Regions from separate parts of the Homo sapiens genome. Here region 1 is linked to region 2. Evidence: fine-mapped expression QTL. Tissue or cell type: blood mononuclear cells. Region 2 holds a variant in brackets; the other region holds the start of a gene. All regions are shown on one strand. Distances are from middle to middle. Region 1 holds the start of RHOU (ras homolog family member U). Region 2 has its middle 32 kb from the start of RHOU.

Region 1 (15,524 bases), 34 kb before region 2:
ATGCTGCTAAAGCCTATCAGTACAAACTTCTTAAAACAACTTCATTGCTCTGTTGTCTTGTGTAAGTCTAATGGTTTGATGGAAAGGTTATAGGGTATGGTAAAAATCTCTGCTCTAAGGCCGGGCGCAGTGGCTCAAGCCCATAATCCCAGCACTTTGGGAGGCCGAGGCAGGTGGATCATGAGGTCAGGAGTTCGAGACTCAGCCTGATCGACATGGTGAAACCCCGTCCGTACTAAAAATACAAAAATTAGCCAGGCGTGGTGGCACGCGCCTGTAATCGCAGCTACTCAGGAAGCTGAGGCAGGAGAATTGCTTGAACTTGGGAGCCAGAGGTTGCAGTGAGCTGAGATCGTGCCACTGCAATCCAGCCTGGCCAAGACAGTGAGACTCCATCTCAAAAAAAAAAAAAAAAATCTCTGCTCTAGAGATTGAGTCCTGATTCTGTTAGGAAACTCAATTTCTCTGAGCTGCCATCTTCTAATCTATAAAATTGGGGAAATAATAGCACAGGTTTAGATTTTGTGAGGACTAAATATGACAATGCATGTATAATCAATGTGGTTATAATTTGTTGTAGATTTGTGATCACCTGGAAGATGAGGGGGAGGAGGGTCTTTTTGGACCCAAGATTGTGCTAAAGTCTTCTCACCTGGTCAGAGTAGGGTTGATTGCATCCCCATCCAGAAGTCTGTGCTAAGGCATCTTCTGACTTTCTGTTGCACTTTGCACATCCCCTTGCCCTCACCATACACTGTCTTGCATTACAGATATTTTACAGGTATCTTCTTTTTTACAAGAATTGTCAACTCCTTGACACTCTAAGCATGTCTGTGTTGATCACTATTGTTCACACTAAGTTCATGAGTCAGATAGGTCCATTAAATAATGTAGCTAATGACTACACCTCTGCTCTTCTAAAATCAAATTCCTTTAATGATCTCAATCATAGCATAAGTATTTACCTTTCAATACATTCTTCTGGGATGCATATGATAGAGAAAACAGTCCTCTTGATGCAGTAGACACTCATTTCTTCTCTCTCTCTCTCTTTTTTTCTGGGACAGTGTTTCACTCTGTTGCCCAGGCTGAAGTACAGTGGCACGATCTCAGCTCACTGCAACCTCTCTGTCTCCTGGGTTAAGGTAATCCTCCCACCTCAGCCTCCTGAGTAGCTGGGACCACAGGCACATGACCCCATGCCCAGCTAATTTTTGTATTTTTTTGTAGAGACGAGGTTTTACCATGTTGCCCAGGCTCGTTTCTTCTCAGACTGACAAGCAGATTTATATGGCATTTGGAAGTCCATACATTCATTCTGAGTCTTATATTGTTATTGCAAACCCAGCAATGAATTTTGACAACTACTAGAATATGTGAAAATACCTTTCTTCTTCCCATTGTAGGACTGGGGGAGTGCTCATGTGCTCAGCTTGGAAGAGCTAGAAAAGGGAGAGGGCTGCAGTTTCTGGAGGGAAGTAGGATAGTCTCATGATTCTAGAACTGCTGGCCAGGGTGATTATGGTGGTTGAGAAATGATTACATGGCTAGTTCTTATCTTCAGGGTGACTGAAAAATTAGGGGAGATCACAGTTTTGCAATAGCTAAGAGGGGTTTCTAATGAGTTCTTATCATCTCTGAGAATTTGGGCAGCTGGGGAACGTTTGGGAAAGTTTCTGTGATGTGTGTTTGGGGAGGGAAGTTGGAAATGAATCAGTTTCTCTGAAGGTCTGGGAAGGAGGCTTTTCTGTGCAAAGGGAGGGTCAGACAGCTGGGAAGACCAATTGGGATTGCTATAGCAGCTCCAGGTCCCAGGGAATGGAGATGGCCTTTCTCATCAAAGAGGAATGGCAGGGTTGCAACAGCTGAGAAGACCCAGAGAAGGGGATTTAACAGAGGAAAATAAACCAAGACTAATGCAGGAAAGGTGCCACCAGTGTAGCTCAGCCTGCCTAGAACAGCATCTGTTTTCCACGTTAGCAGCGAGTCTAGCCTTTCTCCTCTAGGCAAATCTACCTGCCATCCCTCTAAGGGCTCTCCCTGGTGCTTTCATTTTTCTTCCAGAACTGATGCATATAAATTGCCATTTATCTCTTGTGATAATTCTGCAGAACCAGTTCAGTTAGTTAAAATATTAAAACACTTATAAATAGCCATGGTGGAAGATGATACCCCCATTAAAAATAAATATTAAAGATGTAAATGATGTGCAGTACTTCATGTTCCTGGAAAAGCTTTGTATAAATAGGATTTTGGTACTCAAATCACATTTAAATTTTATTAGAGTGTTATTTAATTCAAAAAGTTTACAATATGTGATTAGCACTGTGCTAAGCTAAAGCAAACAGTTCTTTGGAATGCAAATAACCATGAGTTCTGTTTAATATGATTTATATGTTTGAATTTGTTTAATCTTTAAAATTTAAAAATATAGCATGATTCACAAAAGTGAATGAAACAAATATATAGCCAATAATTACTATACAGTGCACACCTATAAAACCACCACTCAGATCAAGAAATTGCCTGAACATCAGAAGTTTCCCATGACCCCTTTCCTTCCTGAATGTAACAATTGCCCCCAATTACTCTGACATCTAGCACTGATGAGTTTTGTCAATTTCTTTTCTTTTCTTTTTTTTTTTTTGGAGACAGAGTCTCGCTCTGTCGCCCAGGCTGGAGTGCAGTGGCACGATCTTGCCTCACTGCAAACTCTGCCTCCCGGGTTCAAGCGATTCTTCTACCTTAGTCTCCCAAGTAGCTGGGGCTACAGGTATGCACCACCACGCTGGGCTAATTTTTATATTTTCAGTAGAGTCGGAGTTTCACCATATTGGCCAGGCTGTGCTCGAACTCCTGACCTCATGATCCACCTGCCTGGGCCTCTCAAAGTGCTGGGATTACAAGCATGAGCCACCGTGCCTGGCCAAGTTTTGTCCATTTCTAAATTTTATATAAATCAAATAAGATAGTTTATACTCCTTTGTGTCTGATTTCTTTCACCTCTCATTTAGTTGATGAGATTCATTCCTGTATGTTCACTCATTTTCTTGACTGAATAGTAGTATATCATGAATTACCAAATTAACTCATCCATTTTACTGTTTTAGACATTTATATGGTTTTTAGTTTTGAGCTCTTATAAAATTGCCATTATACGCATTTGTTCACCCACAGAAATCCATGTGTTCACTCATAGAAATGCACGGGTACATATACAGACAGGAATGCACATGTTCATGTATAGAAATGCAGGGTATGCACACACAGAAATGAGTGTCACAGGTGGCATAGTTACAAGATGCAAGAAGACTGCATCCCTGAGTCTCCACTTGAAAGGGAGCTGCCTTGGAGAGCTACTAAATCTGCTGTGAATTTTGCATGACCAAAAAATTAACTCCTATGTTTCTAGACATTGAAATTTTGAGTTCACTTATTATTGCAGCATAGTACAGCCTAATCTGACTAGTATAAAACAACATAAACAGTTTCAGAAATAATTTTTACAATCAAAATTAAGGATTGATTTTTACATCTTAAACTTTCATGATACCAATGGAAGAGCTTAATTTATCCATTCTAGTTATCTACAAGGTGATGGCAGGTGATAAAAGGACTTCTGGAGGCAGGGAAACTAGTATCAGCACATCCAACCAACCATGTGGTCTGAGCCCTTACCATGACACTAACTGATGTTTGTGATTCCTGAAAGGAGCCACTGGTGGCCCATTTGGTGGTTTGGTGACATTTATATGATTTCCCCATCTTTTCTAGTGAAACATGGCAAGACATTTTCCTTGTCATTTTTTTTTCCTAGGATGACATCCCCAGTGGTAAACAAGAAACTATTGGTCAGGGCCCAGTCAGGAAATCAGAGCCACTCCAAGGTACAGGGTTAAGGAAGGAGAGCTTTCACAAGTTTGGGAATTGCTGGGGAAGTTCAGAGGGAAACAGTGCCTAACCCTGACCAGCTGAAACCCTTGTGCAGGATACTGGTGGGAACTTGGAGAAAAGCCAATAGTAAGTTATGCAGATATGGCCCTTGGAGGCTGTGGAAGGGAAGCTTGAGGCATGAGGTGTAGGGACTGCAGCCTCTTTGGGGCCCAGGGGCTGGGTGAGGGCTGAAGGCTGCTCTGGGTCAGCAGAGCCAGCAGTGAGATGATATCACTGCAAAGCAGGAGGCTAGTGAGGATGTGCTGGGCACCGCTGTGTCCATCCACTGGCATGTTTGACCATATGACCCTCCTCCACTTCCCTTCAGTCTTCTCAATTCTGAGAATCATGTCTCCGGACAACTTTAGCCGAGAACCATACAAAGAAGGAAATTCTGGGAGCAGACAGCCATGCTGGCAATAGACAACCCAGCTTAGAGTCTCCAGTTCTAGAGAAATATTCTTCTGATGTCCTCTTATAGGGTATTGAAAAAACTAGGGCACTGCTGAAGGAAAGAAATCAGATTAATGTGTCCAAGGCAAAGGGTTACCATTTAAAGAGTGAATGAACACACAGAGTTATATGACCTGCTAAAATGAAAGATCCAAAAAAACCGTGCTGTTCTGATTTGGTACTCAGTAAATGGTGAAATGTTATCAATAGCAGGAAAAACAGCTTTATATTTAATATGATGATGACAATGACACCTGGCAAGGAATATGTTGAGCAGATAAAAATTTATTTATTTCTTAAATATATCAAAAGATACAAAAGTGACATGTACACAGTGGAAAGTCTATTAGGACCTTTTTTTCTTTTTACCATTTTAGTAAAAAACTACAAATTCACTATTAATTATTTGCTAGTGGAACAGTTAAAATAACTTGATGGAAAAAATCCTAGAAAATGTATTAATACTGTGCTAGGGGAAGAGTTTTGTGAACTGGGGATCCTCCCTTTTAGGGGATTATGAGCAAGGGTAGGTGTTGTATAATCAGTAGATGATTTCACTAGATAAGGGCTGTGATAGGGACAAGCACAAATATATCCACATAAGGGGTCAGGGAACATTTCTGGACTTGGATGAAACACCAATTTGTTTGGTGTGGAGGTCTGCTTTCCTACGTTGCCTGTAGAAGATTCTTATGAATAGGGCAAGCGTTAGTTCTGAGCATTTTAGATAAGGCTGTAGGGGACTGATTCAGTTGAGCCCAGAAAGATGGGCCCAAATGAGTGGGTGTGGGACAGTTCAACATAAAAAGGGGTAAAGCAAGAGAGGGAGGCTATGGAACACAAAAACGAACAGATGGCCAGATGGAGAAGCAAAGCCAAGTTTTGTCGGGCCTGAAGCTTATCACATTTTGAGGACTTCATTAAGAAAAAGAACACAAAATTAAGTATAGAAAATTAGGCAGAAAAATAAACATCCTTGGAGGAGGTGACACCTAAGCGGAGAAAGAGCAAGTTCATGGAAGAAGGAGGAAGGGGTTACAGACCTGTAGTTCGAGGAGAAGACACCTTCTCTGACATGTTGTTGGGGACCCAGGGGTGGGTTGCTGGAAGTCCTGGAGGAGGTGTTGGGGGTAGGTAGGGGGGATGAATGCTCACAGCTGGGCTGGAGGGCCTCAGAGAGACAAGATCTTAAGAACGGAAATTCTGCACCCAGTTTTCAGAATTTTCTAGGCCCACTGCACAATGAAGGCGTTGTACTGTCTTGGTGAAAAACAAATGGGAATACATGAGGTGTAATGCATTTTTTGTCTTAAAACTGAGCAAAGACATGGTTTTCTATTAATAGCTGCAAGAAGTGGTCAAATTTCCTTCATTCATTCTAAAAATATTTTATAAAAGCATAAAAATACAACTGTCCATGTTTTGAGAGTCCATGTTTTACATTCTTCTCCTTTTCTTTCTTTCTTTTTTGCAGAACCGTCAAGTTCAAAACATGTTTTCCTTTCACTTACGTATTTACCACTGCTTAAGTATTTATTAAGCACCTACTACTTGCCCCACGTGCTTCTAAGTGTGGGATATAGGAATGAGCAACATTAAGTTTCTGATTTCATGGAGCTTGTAAGAGGAGACAGACAATAAGCAAATAAACAAACAAATATATCATACAACTTGAACCCACACACCTTGGAGGGCTTCTTGTAGCATTAGTTCCAAGCATTTTAGATAAGGCTGTAGGGGACTGATTAAGTCGAGCCCAGAAACATGGACCCAAATGAGTGGGTGCGGGACAGTTCAACGTAAAAAGGGGTAAAGTAAAGGCATTCTGTAAAGGGGTAAAGTGGTAGGCATTCTGTCATCTCTCTGCTTTTGGACTTGGATGAAATACCGAACTGTTTGGCGTGGGGTCTGATTTCCTATGTTGCCTACAGAAGAGTCTCATGAATAGGGCAAACATTAGTTCCCGGCATTTTAGATAAGGATGCAGGGAGCTGACTAAGTTGTGTCCAGAAAAACGGGCCCAAATGAGTGGGCGTGGGATGATATTCAGCATGAGAAGGGGAAAAGCAAGAGGGGGACGCACAGGACACAAAAACTGACAGCTGGCCAGATGGAGGGGCAAAGCCAAGTTTTGTAGGGCCTGAGGCTTATCACATTTGTGAGACTTCATTAAGAAAAAAAAATACAAAATTAAGAATAGAAAATTAGATACAAAAACAAATGTTTAAAGTGAGAAATGCATCACAATAAGTTACAAATTTTAAAAGGCTAACAAACACCATAAACTTAAACAAAATACATAAGACATGACATTTTAATAAACTGCTTGACACACTTCTATGACATTATTTTCATTTTTCAGTTGCATACCCTTTGATCACTTCTTCAGTTTTGTAAGATATTTTCTATAAGAACAATAGGAAGTTACTTCACACACAGGTGAACTTGCTTTTTGTTGTACTACTACAGCCTCATGTCCTTACAAACATGGGAATTCAGATCATTCATTTCATGTGATTTTTCTCCAAAAATGTATGATGCATTTGTAAGTGTATCTGCTGCATTTAGAGTACAGGTACATTTCTGACAGCAGACAACTTCTGTTTTGATCAGGTTTAGTAGAGAGAACCAAACCTTCTCTAACAATGTTGTGTTTTCTTCTGTTTGTTTCTTTTTGAGACAGTGTCTCACTCTCGCCCAGGCTAGAGTATATTGGTTGATCAAGGGCTCACTGGAGCCTCGACTTCCCAGGCTCAAGTGATCCTCCTACCTCAGCCTCTGGAGTATTTGGATTACAGGTGTGAGTCACCACACCTGGCTAATTTTTTTATTTTTGGTAGAGACAGGGTTTCGCCATGTTGGCCAAGCTGGTCTCGAACTCGTGGCCTCAACCGGTCTGACTGCTTCAGCCCCCCAAAGTGTTGGGATTACAGGCGTGAGCCACCGCACCAGCCGATATTAGGTGCTTTATGATGGAAAGAATTGCCAGACTAGCTTCCAGCTCTGCCCATCTCAAGCTCTGCTACTCTTGCTACTGGAACCCTTCTAGTGTTGGGGAAAGTAAGACAGTTAAGGGCACCAATGTGACTCTCACAGAGGGTCATAGGTATGTCAGTGGTAGCCATTCCTATACCTGGATGGCTAGCAACAACATATCTACATAGGAGAACTGTAAACCACATAAATATATCCTGTCATCACAGCCAGGGCGAGGGAGAGGCAAGTCAGGTACCTGAGGCTCAAAACTTAACATTGGCACTTGCCTGACCCTGAGAGTAAGGGCCCTCTAAATTTGTTGTTTTTTGATATTGCCTCTGAATGCTCAATTTGTCATAAATTTTGCATCCTTGACATCCCCCTTATCTCACCTTCATCCTGATTCTGTATCCCATTACACCCAAACAACCTGTTTGGGTCTCCCCAACTTCACTTTCTTTGGCTGATCCCCAAAATCTTCATGGCCTCTTCAAAGTCACTCAATATGAGGGTAAGTTACAGTTTAAAAAGACAGTGAACATAACTGGTGGTGATTAAAATACTTTTTTTTTTTTCAAAATTTACAGAAACATATTACCACGTGTACACATTGCTAGGTCTTCCAATGTGAAAGTGTCCTTTGCAAGTCAGGGGTCCTGGATTCAAGCTTCTAACTTCTTGATAAATCCATCTCTGCATTCTGACCATGGCCATACGTTCAAGATTACGTTTATCATACTGACTTATTTTTGCCTCCAGGATTTTGGTTAGAAGCTCAGGCTCTGGGGCTAGACTATTTGGGTTTGGATCCTGGCATTGCCACTTACTAGCTTGTGGAATCCCAAAACGTTACTTAATATCTCTGTGCCTCAGGTGTTCTCATCTGTAAGTAATGTTAAGATTAAAAGAATTAGTTCTTGAAGAGTGCTTACAACAGTATCTGACACATTATGAAAGTTCAGTATTTGTTATTGTTATTTTTACTACCACTAGTATCAATGTGTATTAATAATATGTGGCCCTTCTCACACCACGCTGTACACCCCCAGGACTCTTGGTATTCTGACTTGGCTAAGAGGCGTCCTTTTTCTGAATAGACTGTTGACCACATGTAGAAGGAAGGCAGAGAGAGAAATGAATCAAAGGGAAACGGAATATTTTTTCAGACATATTAATGTCTCCGAATTACCTTTAAGTAAATGAAGGAATTGGGGGTATAAAAAAATTTCTGGAGCATACATGTATAAAGGTTCACGGCATGCCGAAAGACAAAGTCAAAGGAGCATTCACAATGGAGCTGGCATCCTTTTGCTTCAAAATGAGAAAAAATCACACGATCAGCTGCAGTTAGACTTAAGGAAAAAAGCTGTCTGTTAATTCAATCTCATTCGCAGGACAGGCCTCCAGGACACTTCATTTTTCCCCCTGGGTGGAGCCGTGGCCAGCCGGGGGCTCCACGGAGTGAATAGGAGGCGGCTCAGGCTTCCTGGCTCGCGTGGGCGCCAGAAAGCGGAACCTCCCGGGCCAGTCGCGCGGTGGTCACCCTCTTGGGAGCTGGGGAGGAGGCTGCGGAGGCTGGCCCGGCTCCTTCGGGCGTCGCTTCCCGGACCGGGTGCGCGGGGTCCCCCGGAACGTGTGTTCCAGGTCCTCCCGCGCCAGTGTTCGCAGTCCCCGCCTGGTCGCGGCGGCGCCTCGGGCGCGGGTGCAGGCGCGCGGCGCGCAGGCGGGGGGCGCTGTGGTCTTGGCGCGGGGACCGAGCCGCTCGGCCAGACCCGCCTCTTTTCCCTCCCCGCCAGCCCGCCCGCCTGCCCGCCCCCCACGCGTCGTGTCGCCGGGAAGCCGGGCGGAGACAGAGCGCTTGGGATCCACGGCGCTCGGACCGCTGTCCTCCAACAGCGCAGGGCAGAGCGGCTGGCGCCGCCGGAGCGCGGAGCCACGACCCTCCCTGGCCGCCTTTGTCTACTGGCCGTGCGGCCCGGAACCGCCACTCTCCAGGGCCGGGGACGCGCCCGCAGCTGTCGGTGACAGCTCCTCCCTACCGCAACCCTCCGGGGCGGAGGGGCGGTCGGGCCGGGCCCTGCTAGCCCGCGACCGCAAGCCCGCGCTCGCGGATCGATGCCCCCGCAGCAGGGGGACCCCGCGTTCCCCGACCGCTGCGAGGCGCCTCCGGTGCCGCCGCGTCGGGAGCGCGGTGGACGCGGGGGACGCGGGCCTGGGGAGCCGGGGGGCCGGGGGCGTGCGGGGGGTGCCGAGGGGCGCGGCGTCAAGTGCGTGCTGGTCGGCGACGGCGCGGTGGGCAAGACGAGCCTGGTGGTGAGCTACACCACCAACGGCTACCCCACCGAGTACATCCCTACTGCCTTCGACAACTTCTCCGGTGAGCTGGCCGGGGGGCCGGGGCCGGGGGCGCGTGGCCGCGGTCCACCCAGGGGAAGGAAGGTGGCGCGAGGGTCGCGAGGTTCCCAAGGGGGCTGCAGGGCCCCGGGCGCGGCTCCAGCTGGGAAGCCGGACAAATGAGGAGTGCAGGACGTTTCCTGAGTCTCAGGGACCGGGCAAGCGCGGAGCTAACACGAAAGGACCACGGCGGAGTGGGCTTGGAGAGAGGAGGGCGGAGCGGCAGTCAGAGCCTTGCCAAAAAAAAAAAAAAAAAAAATCTCACAATTTAAGCAACAGATAAGTAGGAGTGAAACAGGTTGAGTTCAGGGTGCCCGGTCAGTTTGTTGCATAGAGCAAAGTTTCCTGAGGGCGACGTCGCTGGCGCCGCTGCAGAGTTTCAATCAGAAGGTGACGCGCAGGTGCCTTTACCTGAGCGTCGCTCCTTTGCTTTTAGGCGGCTCAGCTCACAAGGGGCGTCTCCGCTTTAAAGAGCCGCGGAGACGCCGGGAAAACACTTGATTTAGTGAAAAAGCGCGAGCGGCCCTCGTGAAGGCTTAGGTTTGGATGAAACCTGAAGAGTAAACACCATTTCTTTCTTCTGAGCCCCACCACCTTCCCTGCCCACATGGGCTCGGATTCTGATTGTTGGTATCTTTTCAGGATCCCTTTAAGCTACTTAAAGCTCCTATGTACCGGGTGCGATGCCATTTCCCTTGGTAGATACAAAGAGAAAGGAATTCTCTATCTTGCTATTCAGGTCTTTTTGAAATTTAAGAAAAAGTTAAAATTCACAGAAACTAGTATGAAACACTTAACTGTCTTGCTTCTTTAAAAAAAAATTGCTTCTCTGACCTTCCTTTCATCCCAAAGGTACCTTAGAGAAATGGGTGCTGTACTGGTGGGTTCCCACCGCAGGGTATTGTTTCTTCCCCTCCCCCCACCCCACCCCTGCAGCTGACTAGTATAAATATTTAGAAACAATTAGAAAGTTGTGTAGAAAGAGACAAAACTGACTGCTTAATTAAAATAGAAACCTCCACAACATGTCCTGCTGCAGGCCTCTCCACACTCCCCGAGTCCCCGGATCCCAGTGGAAAGGGGGCCATGGCTTTCTTTTTTCTTTTTTAATCCTCCTTTTGACCTGACATAGAGATAAGGAGTGCCCTCATTTCTTAAACAGGACAATGCGGGCAGCCTGTGTTTGCACATGTTCTCAAAACACACTAGAATTGTATGATAAACCCTGAAGTTGGGGAACCTTTCCCAAGGGAAAACAGAATTATTTGTGAGGTTTTCCACTGATTTAAAACTGCAGGGTTGCTTCCCATTTACCCCCAGTGTTGTTTTTAGGTCCTTTGAAACAAGTGTGACAGGAAAATAAATCTTCCAGGACTGGGAGAAAAGCATAGGCCTTTTTAGGGTCACCATCAAAGCGTTCAGGGATTTGCTGCCTGGTTCACGGTAATGGAGTGACTTGCCAGCCGTGGGTTTGTATACAAAAATGCCTCCACAGGGCCTCCTTGTTTTTGGCTAGTCTTTAATTCATTAGAGGACCTAAAATAGGAGCAAAGGGGTTTGGAGTGAGAATGATAGTGAAAGCTAAAACTATTAGTATTCCGAAAGGGGTTAAAAGACACCTCCTGATTGTCATTTTGGTTTTGTTTTTAAGCGGTGGTGTCTGTGGATGGGCGGCCCGTGAGACTCCAACTCTGTGACACTGCCGGACAGGTCAGTATCACGTTACAGCTCAGTGCTGGGAAAGGAAACAGCCTTTTAAAGATTTCCAAATAACCTTTGATTCCCTCAGTCAGTAACTGGGTCATTCTAAAGCCTCATGAAGTGGACCCACCCCTGCTGTTGGCCCTTCTCTGAGGGTGGGCAGGGGCCAGGTTATTGGCCGGCAGGAAGCAGAGGAAGATACCTCCAAACTAATAAAGCAGGGTTTGGCCCAGCTCTGCGTAACCAGGCAAGGGAGGAAGCAGTGTCAAGAACAGCTCTTGTAGGAGTTTCTATTACTTACTCCCTGGTTTTTATGAAAAAATTTCAGTGATGCTTTGTCATCATTTCCCAAACTAAGTTAGTGATGTCTTATAATCGTTTTATTAAAGGCCAGTGAGTCAGATATTGAAGAAATTTGCTCAAGAAAAAGATGGAATTTACATCAGTAAGGGTTAATATTTCCCTTCCTGAGCTATGGTTTGACTCGCTAGGACCAGCCCCATCACTTGAAGCACAGATACATTTGTCAGAGCAGTCCTAAGCTGGAGGGATGAACTAACTGGGCTTATTCTATCCAAACTGTGAACGCTGGTTCTTGTCTCGAGGGCTGGGCCCTTGGAGGAAATAGCCAGGGAGTGTAGGGTTCCCTCTTTGTGTTCCCCAGAAGAAGCCCCCATTGGTGGGTACTCGAGTCATTGAAGTCAGGCTGTGCCTTGTGAACACCCAGGGGTACTTGATTTTGGCAAAGTGATAGTTAATGAACTTGTCTCTCTAGTATGTTCTAGAGTTCAGCAAAGTTCCGGGGGTACTTTGTAGGCAGGTGAAAGTGCCCCCTTCACTTTCTGAGGTGCCATCACATGACTATCTGTGTTTATGAAGGCACTGGCTTTCCACTGCCCCCCAGAGCCTCATCTACGCCAGAGCTTCCAAGTTGCTCACCTACTCTGGGACAGCAGATTCAGAGCTAAGGACAGATCTTATTTTTTAAACCTGAAGATGACATAAGACCGTGGAGCCTTGATCTCCAAGGAACACCGGGCTGGTGCAGGCCATAGCTTGGGAGCACTTCAGCTTGGAAAAACCAAGCACTGTCCGTATTGTATTGTCTGTAGAAAACAAAAATCAGGCTGGGTGTGGTGGCTCATGCTCTTTGGGAGGCTGAGGTGGGAGGATTGCATGAGGCCAGGAATTTGAGACCAGCCTGGGTAGCATAGCAAGACATCATCTCTACAAAATAAAAAAATTAGCCTGGTGTGGTGGCACTGTCTGTAGTCCCAGCCACCAGCCACTCAGGAGGCTGAGGTGAGAGGATCGCTTGAACCCAGGAGTTTGAGGCTGTAGTGAGCTATGATGGTGCCACTGCACTCCAGCCTGGGCGACAGAGCAAGATCCCATCTCTTGGGGGTAAAAAAAAAGAAAAATCAAAGAATACAGTCACTTCTAGCACTGAATCTTTCTGAATGCAATGGTGATATTTATAATTCAAGCTTCATTTCCTTGTATGAAGTGAGGATGCTTTGTCTACCAGGGGGTCAGGTTTTCTGAGTTTTAAAACATGGCCAGCCAGGCGCGGTTGCTCACGCCTGTAATCCCAGCACTTTGGGAGGCTGAGACGGGTGGATCATGAGGTCAGGAGTTCAAGACCAGCCTGGCCAAGATGGTGAAACCCCGTCTCTACTAAAAATACAAAAATTAGCTGGGTGTGGTGCCGGGCGCCTGTAATAGCAGCTACTCAGGAGCCTGAGGCAGACAGTTGCTTGAACCTGGGAGGCGGAGGTTGCAGTGGGCTGAGATCGCGTCACTGCCCTGCAGCCTGGTTGACAGAGAGAGATTCCATCTCAAAAAAAATAAAACACAGGCAGAGGAACATGTCAGTAAACATAGCCATCGGACCTGCTGAAGTCAGACCCTGAGGATAAGATGGAAGTCAGGAAAATACAGGAAGTCCAAAGGCACAGTTAGCAGGGAGCCTTACGGGCTGGAGCAGAAGCTCAGTGCACCTACCTGCCCCAGGATGTCACTCAAATATCACTGTCCACTGGGCTCCCCGTAAGTGTTGGCTCTTCAAGCAGGATGCAGCTTCTTGAGCTGGGGTTTCATGCCCAGTGCCCAGCATAGTGCCTGGCACATAGCAGGGCTTAATCTCGTGGTTTTAGAATGGATGAACCAGAGAAGGACCAGGTGGTGGGGGTATAAACATAAGTTGTGGGCCTGCCCCTTAATAGACTTACAGTGTGGAGGGAAGACAAATGGAAGCTCGTGAAGGAGCAAGCAAAGGGAAGAAAAGAGGTTCGGGCTTAGAGGTGCAGGCTGGTTGGGCCTGGCAGGAAAACCTCTGAGCAGAGTTTTGAAAGACAAATAGGAATTTTACCAGAAGAACTTTGCATAAATGACTGAATCATCAAGGAAGAGTTAAATTGTTCCTGTTTAAAAATCAGGGAAGCACAAGCATCACTTTAGTAGTATTTTTGCACAAAAAAGTTTATAATTAGGGAAAAACGAAGGTTTTGGTGCTACATTTGTAAGTTTCAGTTTATTTGAAAATTATTCTTCTGGCCTCTTAGCAATATTTTCAATGAGATTTACTGTATTTCTTAACCTTTGTGTACTGGTTAGAAGAGTATACCCAATTAAATAATGAATAAGACCACTATCTAAAAATTTGTAGACTTTTAGAACCAACTTCAAAACTTTTGAAGAAGAACCATCTTCAAAAACTATGAAAAATAAGCTGCTGGTAAGATAAGTCAGTTGTTCTGTTTTTGTTTTCCTGATCCCCCATTTATAAATTAGTCTTTGTTTAGACTACTAGCCAAGCTGGTCAAAGTGGCAGTTCTTTTCTACTCTCCCTAGTCCTGATCTGATAAAATACATTTTAAGGGACTTGCTGTGATACCTGCCAAGTTTCCTTATGGAGGAAGGAACACATACCTCTTCTAGGCAGTTGACATAAGAGCCTTGAGGGTTAAGTGACTCCACTGACCTCCACTTCAGATGCCTGGAGAATCAACGTGAGCACAGATAGGCTAGAACTTGGGGATGTGGAGCTGGAGTGTGGGTTTCCCACAGAAGTTGATGGGAGCAGAGTATGGATGGCTCTACATGCTGAAGAAATCACTTCTTGTACTTTGGCTTTTCTTGTTAGGGAGGGTAGGCGAGTCTATAAGATGTCAAAAGGAGTTTTTAACACTGGTCTTACATCACTCAAGGGCAGATTGATCAGAGACAGACTGGAGGCTTGAAAAAACATACCTTTGGCATAAGAGAAAAAAGTATTGCGGAAATAGGAGTAGTTCACTGGAGAGTTGCCAATAGAAGCTGAAAATTCTTCAGCCTTTTGACCCATAAAGTACTTGGAAAAATCTTATACTGAAAAAAAAAAATCAAGTTGCAGCTAGACCAGAGGGATGTAGAATCCAGTCTCGTCTCTCTGCCCCGCCAACCCTGATCAGACTTCTGTGCAGTGTCCGTACCACAGACCTGGCAAGCACATGCAAATTGCTTGGCCTCAGAACGCCTTTTCTTAAGGGTGCATTCCAGTTGTCCTCATTGCACGTGTGTATTGCATTATTTCTAAGATTTCAGGTCAGGCACTGAGCAGGAGGGTCTAATTTCTGTTTTATTTCTCAAGCCCCTTAGCCAGAATCTCAAGAGATCTGGGGAGATAGCTTTCCAAAGCCCCCTCAGAAGTCCCAGCCCTTGTGCTTGCCTTTATTTTTCTCAGTAATGCAACCCCAGATACCAGGGCATGGCCAGGGGTGCAGCTACCTGAGGGGGCTGCCTTAATACTGGTCTCAGTTTTATGCTTCTTTCTTTGAGGCCCTCTAAGAACAGAGGGAGCATTCCATTAAAAGATCTTCATGACTGAGCCATAGTCTACCTGGCTGTGTTTCTGTGTTTATTTATTCATCACAAAGTTGGCATGAAGAAACTTAAGTCATTATTTTTCTTTTTAAAAATTTTTTTTAGAGAGCAGGGTCTTGGTATGTCACCCAGGCTGGTCTCAAACTCCAGGGCTCAAGTGATCCCCCTGCCTCAGCTTCCCAAGTAACTGTGACTATAGGCAC
Region 2 (15,524 bases):
TGGAAGTGGATCACCATAAAGGTCTTCATCCTCATTGTCTTCATAATGAGTAGGATGAAGGGAGGAAGAAGAGAAGGGATTGTTCTTGCTGTCTCAGGGATGGCAAAGGTGAAGGAAGATTCAAGTATAAGTGAATCCTCGAAATTGAAAACTGTGTTGTTCCAAGGCCAACTGTAATCCAATCCAATTGTCTTTATTTCCTTCCCAGAAGTGCTGGGCACCATCACCAAGTGAACCTGTATTTGAGAGTGATATACATTGGGGAAACTTCCTCACTGTGGAGTTCTCTAGGGAGTGGGCAAAGAGATGGAGTTAGGGGTGTAAAAGGTTTATAGAGGGGTGTGATGTCTGGGGAAGATAAAGGGAAGGAAGTAGGCTGGACAGGGCAACCTCTGGTGGTAACGCATGTGGGAGTCTCTTATCAATCCAAGGAGAAGTCCAGAGCCAGGCTGCCTTTCAGAGAAGTCCCACATTGGGCAGGGGTAACCAAGCCCTAGTACTTTGCACTGCTAGGTGACTGGCTGGGGGCTACCTGGCTGGGAAGAGCATGGCCTCAGCTCACATGGCTGCCTGGCAGCCATCTTCTCCTCCCACCTGGGCTGCAAGCTCTTCCCTAGAGGGAGATGGGGCTGCCATCCCAACTGAGTGAGTTCACAGCTCAGCGGTGACAACCATGATTGGGTATTAGCCTCCAGTATGTGCTTGACAGTGTTTAAAATAATTTTATTTAAGCCTTAAGGCTACTCTAAGTTAATTTTTTTTTCTACATTTGAAAATCGAGAAAACTCAAGAGGTTAAGTTACTTGTCCAAGTTCAACTAATGGCTAGAAAAATGGCAGAGCCAGGGGATTTGAATGGATGAAATGGATGAAATGAAATGATTGTCAATGGAGATTAGAAACTTGTCTTATATTCTTTAAAAAATAGAGGGCATGGGCCTGGCACGGTGGCTCACTGCTGTAATCCCAGCACTTTGGGAGGCTGAGGCGGGTGGATCACCTGAGGTCAGGAGTTCGAGATCAGCCTGACTAACATGGAGACACCCCGTCTCTACTAAAAATACAAAATTCACCAGGCATGGTGGTGCATGCCTGTAATCCCAGCTACTCGGGAGGCTGAGGCAGGAGAATCACTTGAACCTGGGAGGTAGAGGTTGCAGTGAGCCGAGATCGCGCCATTGCACTCTAGCCTGGGAAACAAGAGCGAAACTCCGTTTAAAAAAAAAAAAAAAAAGGCATAGAGGGTGTGCATTCAGCTTATCCAAAGAACGTAGGGATTTTCGCTCTGGTCACAGTGTTTGTGGGTAGGGCAGGGGGAGGGAGGGGAGACGGACTTTTGGACTAATCACATTATTATGTGACAGAGGTCATAACAATGTCTGGTTGTAGAAGGACCAGTTATCTTCATGGCCACTGCAGTCAGAATATTGGCCTCAACAATCCAACTCCTATTAACATTCAGAAAGTAAACACAGAGGAAGAGTCTGAACTGAGAGGGTCGGGGAGGAGGGAGTAAGGGATTACCCTTAAAAAAAAAAGGATGGGCTACATTTTGCAATAAGATTGGTAAAATTATTCCTGCAGAGTTAACAGTGATAAGAATTAGAGCCCACAACTTCAAAAACAGCTTTGAGTGGCAGAAAGTATCTTCCCCAGATGCCTTATTGAATTTGAATTTGCTAACCAGCTCAATCGCCTTTATGCAGTCAGTTAGGGCAGATTTCTATGGCTAATGAAGATGAAAACAGTGAGTTCCCGTATGTCAGCCAGGAACTGTCCCACTGGATTTGTGGGGCGCACGGCAGCATCTACCTCCATTCTCCTCCAGGTGGACAGACCCATTCTCCCTCAAAGGCACTTAGGCTTATACTTGGATTTTAGAAAGCAATAACAATTTATAGTTAGCTTTGAATTTGATAAGATTCTAGGTAGTGTCTTCAGAATTCCATGTCATTAACCTGGCCAAGGCCTTTCAGATTTCAACAGTCCTTATCGGACCCGAAACTGGAAGACTGGCCCTTTTTTCATACATTTACAAAGCAAACAGAGCCCATTTTTTTGAAAAGAGATGGGAGAGGAAGCTTCTCTCTCAGGACATCGAAGATGGAATTCTGATAGATCCTCAGAGAGCAAAAGGTGACCATTAAATCTGAATCACGCCACTGGTTTTCATACAGTATATCCTGCTATTACTACACATCCAATATTGAGAACCAGGATATCTATGGTATTGTGATCATTTCCCCTCACTTGAGCCTTGGCATAGGTATCCTAGTGTTGTAGATCTATGCCAAGGCTCAAGTAAGGGGAAATGATCACTTACTTCCCAGGGGCAGTATTTACTTAAACATCCCTCCAAGAAGAGCTAAGTTGTTGAATTTGTACTCAAGACCCAGGGCTGCTCTAGGAAAGGGTGAGAACGTGGCATGGGATGAGCTGAGAGGTGCTGAATCCTGAACTTAAGGGTGATTCCAGAGGTGCCCTCCAATCTAGGGTTGCCATGCAATATTTGGGATATAGGTATACTAAAAAAATTATCAGTTGTCTCTCTGAAATTCAAAGTTTTTTTACTTTGTATTTTATCTTTGTATTACCTGTCTTTATTTATATTTTAAAATTCTGTTTTCTATCTGGCATCCCTATTTTAATCACAATCTCCAAAACTAAAGAACAGAGCCAAAGTGTCAGTTCATGTAAGCTAGACAGAAAGGTAGATTCTAGTAACCAGGCAAGGGGATCAATTAGAGAGAACCAACAATGACAGATTAAAACAAGATATTTTGAGTTGTTGGAAGCAATAGAAGTTATTGACTGACTGAAACATGCAGTGTGCTATATAATAGCGTTTGGTGAAGGCAGGACAGTTAATAGAAATGAGTGTCTAAGAGACAGGTACTGCTATTACTCCTATTTTTGCTGAAGAAATGGAGGCATGCAGAGTATAGGTAACCTACTCCAGGGAGCACAAGCAGTAGAATCAGAACTAGAACTGGAATTGGCCTCCCGTGGCCAAGTCTTGCAAACTTGATACTCTATTTAGGAGGGCTTTGCTCTTTTATTTGCTTACACAAATTTTAGGTGCTTAACAACATCAGAAACTCCCTTCTGAAGACAGTTTTCTGTGTGCAGCTTAAGGACAGGTTGATGGAAAGAAAAATCAGAGTTATCAGATTCTCCTTTAATATTAGCTGATTAATAAAGACATTGTTTAGAAGAGTAAGTTTTAGATAATAGTAATATGTGGTTGTTTTAAAAAGCCACAGTTCATTTGTATTCTGTTGTCAGTTACAATGCCTTCTATTTCAGGAACAACTGACTTCTGATCTGTTCGCGGATTCAGTAAGACCCTTGTTGAGAATGTCATGGGTGTCAAGCCCTGCACTAGACACTAGATACGGTCATGAAAAGATGCAGAGTGCACAGTGCCCGCTCTCTGAGAAACTATGCTTCTCTCGTTGCATTTTGTGCAGACCTGGATTTTCTCTTTGCCCCTCCAGACCCCTACTGACCCTGCTGTGTGGCCTGGAAGACTAACTTCTTCCCCCTTCATCTTTTAGATTTCTGCTTTTCACAAGGTTTGGTCTGCAGCAGGAACTGGGGAGATGGAAAAGGTGGAGAGAGGTTGGGGGTTTCTTGCCTGCTCCTTCCCTAAGAGAAATCTGTTTCTCTTCTAGAGTCTCAGATCCTGCAAGCAGCCCCTCTTCACAGCCAGATCTCTGAGTTCTCATATTTGTCCCCTGCCTGCCACTTCCCAACAGGCTGACGGGTGATAAAGGCCTCCCTTGTTGCTGATTCCTGGGGCTTTACCATAGCTTGTCAGTCTCCTCAATCCTGTGCTGGTTTCTCTAGATAGTCTGTCAATTTAAGTCCGTTCAGTGACCCCTTTGAGTGCGTCATCTCTTTCCAGCTGGGATGCTGACTGATAGAAGCATTGTAATCCCTCCAAAGTTACTGCTTTGCAGATGGTCTATAAATTCTGATGAAAAAAGAAATTCAAACCAAAGACAAAAAACTGAAGCAATGAAATACACTTGGGAGAAAGTAAAACTATAATGACATGCATGCTGACTGTACCCCAAGGAGAAAACAGGCCAGCACTGCCAGTACAGTTGACCCCTAAACAATGTGGGGTTTGGAGACCAACACCCCCACGCAGTGGAAAATCCATGTATGACTGCCCCAAAACTTAACTACTAATAGCCTACTGTTGACCAGAAGCCTTACCAATTAACATATATTTTGTATGTTATATGTATTATATATGGTATTCTTACAATAAAGTAAGCCAGAGAAAAGAAAATATTATTAAGAAAATCAAAAGGAAGAGAAAATATATTTATTATTTATTAAGTGGAAGTGGATCATCATAAAGGTCTTCCTTTTCTTCGCCTTGATGTTGAGTAGGCTGAGGAGGAGGAGGAAGAAGAGGGATTGGTCTTGATGTCTCAGGGGTGGCAGAAGCAGAAGAGGTGATGGAGGTGGAAGGGGAGGCAGGAGAGGCCAGTGCAGTCTGTGTAATTCGTATAGAAAAAAATCTGTGTGTAAGTGGACCTATGCAGTTCAAACCCCTGTTGTTCAAAGATCAGCTGTATAGCGTATTCCCATTCCGCCTACCAGAGTCCATCCCAAAAGAACTTCTTGTGTATGAATTATCAATGCATCATGTACTTGTGTAACCATGCAAACAGCATCCACTGCTAAACTACACAGTACACATTTCTATACATATATTTTATATAAACATATACTCTATATACATTTCACATAATTAAGAGTTAGAAGAATTGATTAGGTTTAGTAAAGAGGAAAGGCACCACCCAGGGCAAATGACTGCTGCATTTGGTCAGAGATTTCTCAGAGGACCAAACACACTTCGAGCTGTCGAAAGAGATATAAAGAATAAAGAAGGATGTTATGGGAAGAAGCTTTTGTTTCTGTGTAAGGAAAAACTTTATAACAGTGTGAGGTCCCAAAATAATTTTGTGGATTAACTATATGTTGTTTGCTCATAAGAATCACTTGACTTTGGCTTTTGGTTATATAACCTATTTGGTTCTTTAAAGAAAATTTTATGAGCTTAATTATGTGGCAAAAACAGCTTAAAAAAAAAGATTTTCTGGGCAATCCCTAATAGCCCTCTTAATATAAGGCATGCCCGTTTTAGCCCCCTCATCTGCTGAAGGCTGGATTTAAAGGAGCCTTTTCTTTCTATCTCTCTCTCTCTCTTTTTTTTTTTTTTGAAACACTATCTTGCTTAGTCAACCAGGCTGGAGTGCAGTGGCACCATCATAGTTCAGTGCAGCCTTGACTTCTCGGGCTCAAGTGATCCTCCCACCTCAGTCTCCAGAGTAGCTGCCACTACAGGAGCCACCATGACCTGCTAATTTTTTGATTTTTTTGTAGAGACAGTATCCTGCTGTGTTGCCTAGGCTGGTCTCTAACTCCTGAGCTCATGATCTTCCTGCCTTAGCCTCCCAAAGTGCTGGGATTACAGATGTGAGCCACTACACCCAGCCTTATAGAGCCTTAATGGAAAATGACATCTTGCCAGAAAAATGTAGGCATTAGTAGTCTTTTGCAACTGATAAGTGTGTCCTATTAAACAAAAACATAGTTCATAATGTATTAATATATAAGTAAATCTGCCAGAACACCGGCTCATAGTGCTATGTAAGTGCCTACTAGTATTTTTATTGTTGTTGTTACTTTGCTTTGACAACATCTCATCACATTACAGTTTTAGTTCCAGTGGGTCCTGTGTCACTCTTCCAGAGTGCAAGGTGCTCCGCCTGGGGCCTCTTCACTTTCAGGGACAGTTTGTCTCAACTCTCACCACCCCCACCCCATGGGAAGTCACACCTGGTCTCTACT[T/C]CTACAGAGAGGAGCAGAGTCTTCAGGGCGTGGCTGGCCCAGCTTCCTGGTTTCTGCCCCTCAGTGAGGCCTTGTTTCCTCTCCTGCAGCGCCCAGCTTGGGTTCCACCTCGAAGGCTACAGCAAGGCACCGACAGCCACAAGCGGTCACACGCAGACCTTCTACAGAACCTCACTCCAAGACAGGAGATAGAGATGAGGCTGGGGGAAAATTACCATTAGTCTCCAAAGTAAAAGGAAAGTGGGACTTTCTGTCTGCCAATTATGGTAGATCATTCACGTGACCCAACAGCCAGTTACAAATACTGTCACCAGTAACCTTAAACTAGAACGGACCATTAACACTACTCATTAGTTGTTTAAACTTTATGTAATAATTAAGTTGAATGCTTCTAATTTTGCAGTTTTTATTTTCTCAAAATATTTTCAAGTCTTTGTAAGATTCTCCTTGCTTATCACCTTCACATAGTATGAGGCTTATTTTTATTTTTGGTTCACATCAAAATGCAACTAATATTAATTTGTTATTGCAGTTATAATTTTTATATACACAACTTATTGCAGTGGGAAAGACCTGAGAGATTCCTAAATAGAAGGAAACTCAGAAGTCATTTTCCCAAAAAAATTGTAGAAACATTGCCTTTTCAAAGATATTAATTTATATTTTTATCAGTTTAAAAAGCAAATTACGGGTGGTTCATGCCTGTAATCTTAGCATTTTGGGAGGCTGAGGCAGGAGGATCAGTTGAGCCCAGGAGTTCAAGTCCAGCCTGGGGAACATAGCAAGACCCTGTTTCTATAAAAAATTAAAAAAAAAAAAAAACTATCTGGGCATGGTGGCACACACCTGTAGTCCCAGCTATTTTGGGAGACTGAGGCAGAAGGATCACTTGAGTCCAGGAGGTCAAGGCTGCAGTGAGCCATGCACTCTAGCCTGGGCAACAGAGTGAGACTCTGTTTCTAAAAAAAAGAAAAAGAATTGCAAAATGCCATCTAACTGATCACTTTCGAGCTGCTGACTTTAACAAAGAAACTTGTCCCTTGTTTAAGTCTGATGAAAAAGTTAATCCATCAGCAAAAAACCCTTCAGGAGTAAAAATATAATATCAATTTATTTGGGTTCAATTCAACCAATATTTGTTTATCATTTATTATGTACCAGGTACATTTCAAGGCACTGTAAATTTGGAGATGACTAAGGTGGCCCTGACCTCAGAAGCTCACAATTTCTCCCTGTGACAGGAAGCTAGACGAGGCACTCTAGTACAATGCTTGGATCTGCACTGGAACCTGGGGCATGGGGCCCTGAGAGAGTGCCACAGAGGCTGTTGGCTTCTTCTGAAGGGAGCTTGGGCTTATTCGGTCCCATGTCTGTCCCCTGTGAGAGACTAGATACTGCTTGAGGACGAGGGCCAAGTCTTTACTGCTCTTTATTCCTGCTGAAAGTTCAGGGATCAATTTATCTTTTTTATATAAAAGAAAGAGAAAAAGGGGGAGAGAGAGAGAAGGAGAAAGAGAAGAAGGATAAGGAGGAGAAGGAGAAAAGGAAGGAAGGAAGATGTTTTGGGCTGAATTGTGCACCCTCAAAATTCATACATTGAAGTCCTAACCACCAGTACCTCAGAGTATGACTCTATTTGGAAACAGGATTTTTAAAGAGGTAATTAAGGTAAAATGAGGTCATATGGGTAGCTCCTGATCTAGTAGGACTGGTAAGAAGGGGAGATTAGGACACAGACACACATGGAGGGAAGACCATGTAAGGACACAGGAGAAGGTGACCATCTGCAAACCAAGGAGGGAGGTCTCAGAAAAAAACCAAACCTGCCAACGCCTTGATCTCACACTTCTAGCCTCGAGGACTGTGAGGAATACATTTTTGTTGTTTAAGCCACCAAGTCAGTGGTGTTTATTATGGCAGCCCTGTCAAACTAATACAGAAAGAAGGAACATAAGAGGTCTTTCTTGAGTCAAACATTAAAGAATGAATGTGATTTTTTCTAAATTGAAAAAGGAAGAAGGAATGATTAATTTTGCCTGGAATAGGACAAGTCAGTAAAGATTTCATAGAGGAGATGACATTTGAGCCGGATCTTGAAGAGGTGCCAGAACTTGCCACTTGGAGAAGGAGACAAGAGGTTAAGGCAGAACAGGAAGAGTAACTCTATTACAAAGAATCGCAAGTACGTGGAAAACAGATCTAACAGGGATATCTGACGTGTGGAATTGAGGTGAAAGACTCATGGGAAATAAGACTGGACAGATAGATGAGGAAGGACCAGACTATGGAAGACCAGTGGTAGAACAAGAAGGTAGTTTACATAGAAAAAAGAACTGATCTGGTCTTCAGTTTAGAAACAGATACCTGGAGGAGAAGAGAAGGGTGAAGAGAGAGCAGGAGATTAGTCAGGATCTGTCACCGTGGTGTAGACAGAAGGGGAGGAGGCTCTGAGCTCGAGAGAGGGGGGCATGGGAATGAAAAGGTGAGTGCCAATGTCACATTGTGGGTGGAATCTCTAGAAATGATTGACCACAGCAGAAGCTGTGCTCAACAATCACACTAAGATTTTAAGCCAGGAAAGGGAAGATAACTGCACCAGGGGCAGAAATACAAAGTCAGGAGGAGGCACTGGCTATGATTGAGGGGAGATGATTTTATTTTAGATTTGAAGTGTGATAAAACTAATGTGTGTTGCAGTGATTAGGAGAGATCTGGAAGGAGAAGCTGCACTCTGGAAGAGGGTTTAGTGCCATCTGGACCCCAGTCTGTGGAGGCCACGTCATATCAGAGCAGACCTCCCACGTATGGCTGTGTTCCAGCGTTAGTCGTAAACCATTAATAGACACACTGTCCCTTTCATGGCCCCCACCCTCCTGACTACTGCCCTTGAGAATATAACCTTGCTTTACCCTTCCTTGGAGAAGGTAAGTTATGGTGCCATAAAAAATATCCCAAAGTCTCAATGGCTCAAACAGTAAAGATTTATTTCTTGTTCACATTATACATCACGGTGTCATTGTCCTCCCTCTGGATCCAGGCCACGGAGCTGCTGTTCATAGTCATCATGGCATCAGGAAGAGAGAGCTTGGCAAAGCCTTCGTGTGCACTTAAAACTTTCATCCCAGAGAGGCCCAAGCGCCGAGAGACACACCTCCTGTGTGGAAGGATTCCAGATGACAGATACAAAGGCAGCATGGGTTAACTGTCCAGCCCTCAGAATGCGCTGTGCCCTACTGTACTCCCCTCATAAAGCGGGGGGCCTTCGCAATGGGGAAGCCAGGCAAACACCACGTCGGCCCAGTGACCAAGGTCTACACGCATCTGTGATGAGACATATTGGTAGCAGGATCTTAATGGGATGTGATGAGAAGGGCGTCTCTCCTCTGTGGTCTTCCCACCCCAACCCCATACCCTCAGTCTGATAATCATGGTGAAAACATCAGACAAACGCAAATTGAAGTATATTCTACAAAATACCTGCCCTGGATTCCTCAAAACTGTCAAAGTCATCGAAAATGAGGAAAGTCTGAGAAACTGCCACAGCCCAGAGGAGGCTAAAAAAAAAGATGACAAACAAATGCAATGTGATGTCCTGGATGGGACCCCGGACAGAAAACGGACCTTAGGGGAAACCTAGTGAAATCTGAGTAACATGTGCACTTTAGTTAATGCACCAAAGTTGGTTCCTTAACTATGACAAAGGTAGCCAGAAAATGTAAGGTGTTACTAGTAGGAGAAACTGGGGGAGGGGCATGTGGAAACTCCATATGCTATCCTCGCAACTTTTCTTCAAATCAAAGTATTCTTAAGAAAAGTGTTTATATAAATTAAACAAAAAAGAGGTGCATGCCATTTCCACTCACAGAATTAACCCAAGAACTCGGAGCTCCTTGCTCACACCAGATTCTTCCTCTCAAATACTGTCACTCAATATCATGAGATTATGAAAATAAAGGAAGTCTATACCTTGTGGCCAGGAGTGACCAAATACTAAATAAATTTTTCAACTGTAGTTAGACGGAGAAAGGAAATCAAGTGAAATGGTATGCACCAATATTCTGTAAAACAAAGCAAAACAGCAAAGAGAAATAATATTTATTCAGGATTACCACTTCCAATTTCATTGACCTGTGGCCACACCTAACCCATGTGGCAGACGGTGGCAGTGTGCAGTCCCACCGTGTGTCTAGGGGATTTGTGGCTGTGCCTTCTTCCACCCTTTGGACCTGAAGCTTAGTGCCACTTCTCAGACTCCTGTGCCCTCGTGTGACTCGTTGGCTAGGATTTCGATTTTTTTCTTTACTCATCCTGGGTGACTGTCTCCCTTGGTCCAGTCTGATCCCTGGAACACCCTAAAACACAAAGTCCTTTTTTGTGTATCATGCTTCTACACTGCCTGCCTGGCCCCAGGAGCGCCGTGGACAGAGAGAATAACATCTGCGTTACAAAAGGTTATCAGAACGCAGTAGAATTGAGGCTAGTGAGGAGGGTGGAATGGAACAGACCTAGAACCATGCATGATCTGCAGGGGACACAGCAAGGGGCCTGGCTGGCTAGGCTAAAGGGTTTATGTGAGGGTGTACTAAGGAAACTGGAGGGAGATGTGGTGTTGGGTTGCGAAGGGTCCTGTGTGCTTGGCAGAGAAGCTTGCGCTTCTCCGAGTGGAGAGATTCCACTGTGTCAGTGGAAGGGTGCAGGTTGCCTTGTTCTCCACAGAGGAATCTGGTGACAGTGCTCAGGAGGGATGGTGGCAGACATCAGAAATCAAAATCTGAAAGCCAGAACCCATGTTCATTCAAATTACCATGAACATTCTGGAATGGAAAACAATAATAAAAAGAGGTCCAAAGGTGTGAGATGGAAGCTGTCAGTTTTAACTCCAAAATATACTTATCTCTTGTACACTATCTGTGGTTGAGATCCACAAGAAAGGGAGCTCCCAGAGTCATATGTTTAGATGTTTTGTTTACAAATAAACTGTCACAGCATAGAAGTTTTCCTTCTCTCTCATCTGATTTTTTTTTCTTGGAGCAGTTTATAGTCTATATTTCCACTTCTCCTCTCAAAGTAACATACACCTTTGAATGGCTCGCAGGGTCACTTCTGCCTTCAACAAATTAGCAGCTGGGCCAGGAGCCAAGATCATGCAGTTTGGTGTTTCCAAGTGGCCTTGTTGCATCTGCTGGGCTAAATTACCAGTTTGTGGGACCAGCGGGCCCCAGTGTGTGTTGCTATGCCCCTGGGAGAGAGTCTCGTGTTTCTCTAGTGTCAGGTCTGTAGTCAGTATCATTACATTCTCATTTCTTCAAATATTGCCACTGATTGGAATTTGTTTTACAAAAGAGTCACTGAGTTGGAGTCATTGCTACAAGAGTGCATTGACTTCTAGAGCAAATATAATAAAAGGTGAGTAGAAATTAGGTAATGAAGTAACAAATGTTTGGGGAAAGTGCTGGCTGCCGGCGTCCTGCTCCTGGATATCCAACACAGCATCTGTGAATTGCGCTCATCCAAGCTGCCATCAATCTGCCTTCTCTCTGCTGAAAACCTGTCTGCTATTCTCATGAATTGCCAGCTAGGTAATAATTATATCTGTCCTAGGCACTTTACTCCTTTACAGAATTTTTTATAGTGTCCGTGGGATTCCTTTCCTAACACAGAACACGACAAGGTACAACAGTTAGGCACAGTGCATGATGTGAGGGTAAAGAGAAAGGCAGGCCGGGCGCGGTGGCTCATGCCTGTAATCCCAGCACTTTGGGAGGCCAAGATGGGTGGATCACGAGGTCAGGAGATGGAGACCATCCTGGCTAACACAGTGAAACCTCGTCTCTACTACAAATACAAAAAATTAGCAGGGCGTGGTGGCGGGCGCCTGTAGTCCCAGCTACTCAGGAGGCTGAGGCAGAGAATGGCGTGAACCCGGGAGGCGGAGCTTGCAGCGAGCCAAGATTGCGCCACTGCACTCCAGCCTGGGCAACAGAACGAGACTCCGTCTCAAAAAAAAAAAAAAAAAAAGAGAAAGGCAATGTTGGCAGCCTACTGATAAGCTTCCAAATGTCTCATTTCTTTTTGCTGAGGCTTTTGATTTTGCTTTGTTTCAGAAAACATTAGCATGTAAAATTTGATTTGGCTCTCCCGCTCCCTAGATTAGAAGTTAATAAATTTCATTGGTATTTGATCTCGCCACAGGCTATTTCATTAGCTAAAGAAAAGTTTCATTAATTTTAGTGACCTCATAACTATACTGGATGGTAGACTCTGATGTGAGCAGGTAGTTACACTGTTCCTATTCGGTTTAATCTTTATATTTCCCTTGGAGATGGATGGCATGGCCCTGCTAATTTTCGCAGCTATATAAATATAGATTAAAAACAGCATCTAAGATTGGATACTGTTATGGTTCTCCTGTCTGTTCTTAGGGTAATCAGGGATGCTTCTTTGTGGGAGGGACTGCCTGGAGCAAAGGGGCCCTCCCCAGGACTTGTGGGAGGGAAGCAGGCAAGAGACATTCAGACAAAGCCCATTAGGCACCTGGAGAACTTGACAGGCTATGATGATACAGACAAATCATGGTTCCCTTGCCATTTCTTTTGCAGAAAGTAAAGAATTTTAGATCTATTACATGAATATGTTTAAAACACAAACAATTCATTGCTCCTGCTGGTAGCTTTTAAGATAAGTGGAAGAAATTATTATCCTAAATGGCATTTGAACTGTATAGTGAAAGCCCAATTTTATCTATTGTTTTGTATTTAAAACATTCAGAATAATGACAGATATGCACAACAACATGGATGTACCTCACAAACATGAAGTTGAGCAAAAGAATCCAGGCCCAGAAGATTATATGTTATTATTCTATTTATGTAATAGTTATCTAAACAAAACAAAACAAAAACAGACAAAACCAATCTGTGGCATTAGAAGACCAGAGTGGTTATAGTCGGGGGTAGTGATGGGGGGTGGTTATAGTGGTTATAATTGGGAGTAATGATGGGGGTGGTTATAGCGGTTAGAGTTGGGGGTAGTGATGTGGGGGCAGGAAAGGGCCATCTGGGGGTGCTGAAGATGTTCTATTTTTGATACTGAGTTTATTCACTCTGAAATAGGTCATTGCAAGTTGTATACTTTTTTTGTAAATAGTTTGCATTTCATTAAAAATTTAAACAAATAAAAAGAGAATTCACACACACACACACACACACACACACAAGACAGAGAGGGCGAGAGAGAGCAAGAGAGTGAGAAAGCTAGAGAGAGAGAATGTTTACATAAATGATCTCGTTTAATTTCCTGACAACAACCTGTGAAGGAGGCTTGGGGGATGTGAGGGCCCCACCCCCTGAGATGCTGTGGGTCTTGGAGAACTAAGTGCTTTTGACCCACCTGTCTTCTAAAGAGGGTCCAGTGCCCTCCCTTCCCCTCCCCTGCACCTCACTGCCTGCTGGCAGGGCTCACCCATTGTAATGTGTGGGTAAAATCAGGGGAGATGGACAAAGCCAGAGCCCTCTTGATGCTGAGTCTAGTATAGAGGAGAAGCGAAAGGCACACAGAATCCTGTACTCTGATTAGTAAGGAGAAAACCCAGATCAGAGGTCTGTAGTTTTTAAAAGCCAGTTAAACCCGGGAGGGTCCTCATAAACCCTCATGTGCAAAGGGCTTCCAAACACACTTGGTTCATAAATTAACAGCTAAACAGGAACATGGATCCCCACCGATGGCTCCATGTGGGAGTCTGAGACCAGCAAGTACTCAGCGACCACCATGGATGCCTTGTGTATTATTCGTCTCCTATTGAGAGGTGACAGTGTGCTGGCAGTCCTCACAGCCCTCGCTTGCTCTTGGCGCCTCCTCTGCCTGGGCTCCCACTTTGGCGGCACTTGAGGAGCCCTTCAGCCCACCGCTGCACTGTGGGAGCCCCTTTCTGGGCTGGCCAAGGCCAGAGCCGGCTCCCTCAGCTTGCAGGGAGGTGTGGAGGGAAAGGTGCGAGCGGGAACCTGGGCGGCACGCGGCGCTTGCGGGCCAGCTGGAGTTCCGGGTGGGCGTGGGCTTGGCGGGCCCTGCACTGGGAGCAGCCAGCCGGCCCTGCCGGCCCGGGCAATGAGGGACTTAGCACCCGGGCCAGTGGCTGCGGAGGGTGTACTGGGTCCCCCAGCAGTGCCAGCCCGCTGACGCTGCACCCGATTTCTCGCTGGGCCTTAGCTGCCTTCCCACGGGGCAGGCCTCGGGACTGCAGCCCGCCATGTCTGAGCCTTCCCCCGCCTCCGTGGGCTCCTGTGCAGCCCGAGCCTCCCCGATGAGCGGCGCCCCCTGCTCCACGGCGCCCAGTCCCATCGACTACCCAAGGGCTGAGGAGTGCGAGCGCATGGCGTGGGACTGGCAGGCAGCTCCACCTGCAGCCCCGGTGCGGGATCCACTGGGTGAAGCCAGCTGGGCTCCTGAGTCTGGTGGGGACGTGGAGAACCTTTATGTCTAGCTCAGGGATTGTAAATACACCAATCGGCACTCTGTATCTAGCTCAAGGTTTGTAAACACACCAATCAGCACCCTGTGTTTAGCTCAGGGTTTGTGAGTGCACCAATGGACACTCTGTATCTAGCTGCGCTGGTGGGGCCTTGGAGAACCTTTGTGTCCATACTCTGTATCTAACTAATCTAATGGGGACGTGGAGAACCTTTGTATCTAGCTCAGGGATTGTAAATGCACCAATCAGCGCCCTGTCAAAACAGACCACTGGGCTCTGCCAATCAGCAGGATGTGGGTGGGGCCAGATAAGAGAATAAAAGCAGGCTGCAGGCGCCAGCAGTGGCAACCCACTCAGATCGCTTTCCACACTGGGGAAGCTTTGTTCTTTTGCTTTTTGCAGTAAATCTTGCTACTGCTCACTCTTTGGGTCCACACTGCTTTTATGAGCTGTAACACTCACTGTGAAGGTCTGCAGTTTCACTCCTGAGCCAGCGAGACCACGAACCCACCAGGAGGAAGAAACTCCGAACACATCTGAACATCAGAAGGAACAAACTCCAGACACGCCGCCTTTAAGAACTGTAACACTCACGGCGAGGGTCCGCGGCTTCATTCTTGAAGTCAGTGAGACCAAGAACCCACCAATTCCGGACACACTATCACTTCTGTAACAAAATACCACAAATTTCGTGGCTTAAAACAACACAAATGTATTATCTTTTGTGTGTGTGGTTTTTTTTTCTTATTTTAGGGACAGGGTCTTTCTATGTTGCTCAGGCTGGACTTAAACTCCTGGGCTCAAGTGATCCTCCTGCCTGCCTCAGCCCCTCTTCCCTAACGCCTGCCTCAGGAGCTGGGACTACAGGTACGAGCCACTGGGCCCAGCTACAGATGTGATATCTGAAATGTGTTCTCCATGGGTCTTACTGGACTACACTCAAGGTGTCAGCAGGACTGCATTCCTTTCTGGAGGCTCAAGAGGGGAGAATCTGTTTCCTTGAGCATTCAGATTGTTGGTGGAATTCAGTTCTCTGTGATTGTAGGACTGAGGTCCCTATTTCCTTGCTGACATCAGCGGGGTCATTCCCAGCTTCTAGAGGCCACCCCCGCATTCCCTGACTCTAGCCTCTTTCTCCATCTTCAAAGCGAGCAACAGTGAGTGGAGTCCCTCTCATGATTTGAATC

The links. PIP is the estimated chance that this variant, and not a neighbour inherited with it, causes the effect.
Region 1: it holds the start of RHOU, and the variant in region 2 is fine-mapped to the expression of RHOU in blood mononuclear cells (TOPMed, PIP above 0.99). The same link has a PIP of 0.9 or more in whole blood.

The regions. Positions count from the first base shown.
Region 1 is chr1:228,726,266-228,741,789 of GRCh38, forward strand. RHOU (ras homolog family member U) reads left to right here and starts at 9,214. Exons shown (of 3, transcript NM_021205.6): 1 at 9,214-9,739; 2 at 11,408-11,466. The coding sequence starts at 9,478.
Region 2 is chr1:228,759,855-228,775,378 of GRCh38, forward strand. No RefSeq gene overlaps it. Among named protein-coding and RNA genes, the nearest start is that of RHOU, 32 kb to the left of the region's middle. The variant T/C (reference allele first, on the strand shown) is at 5,871.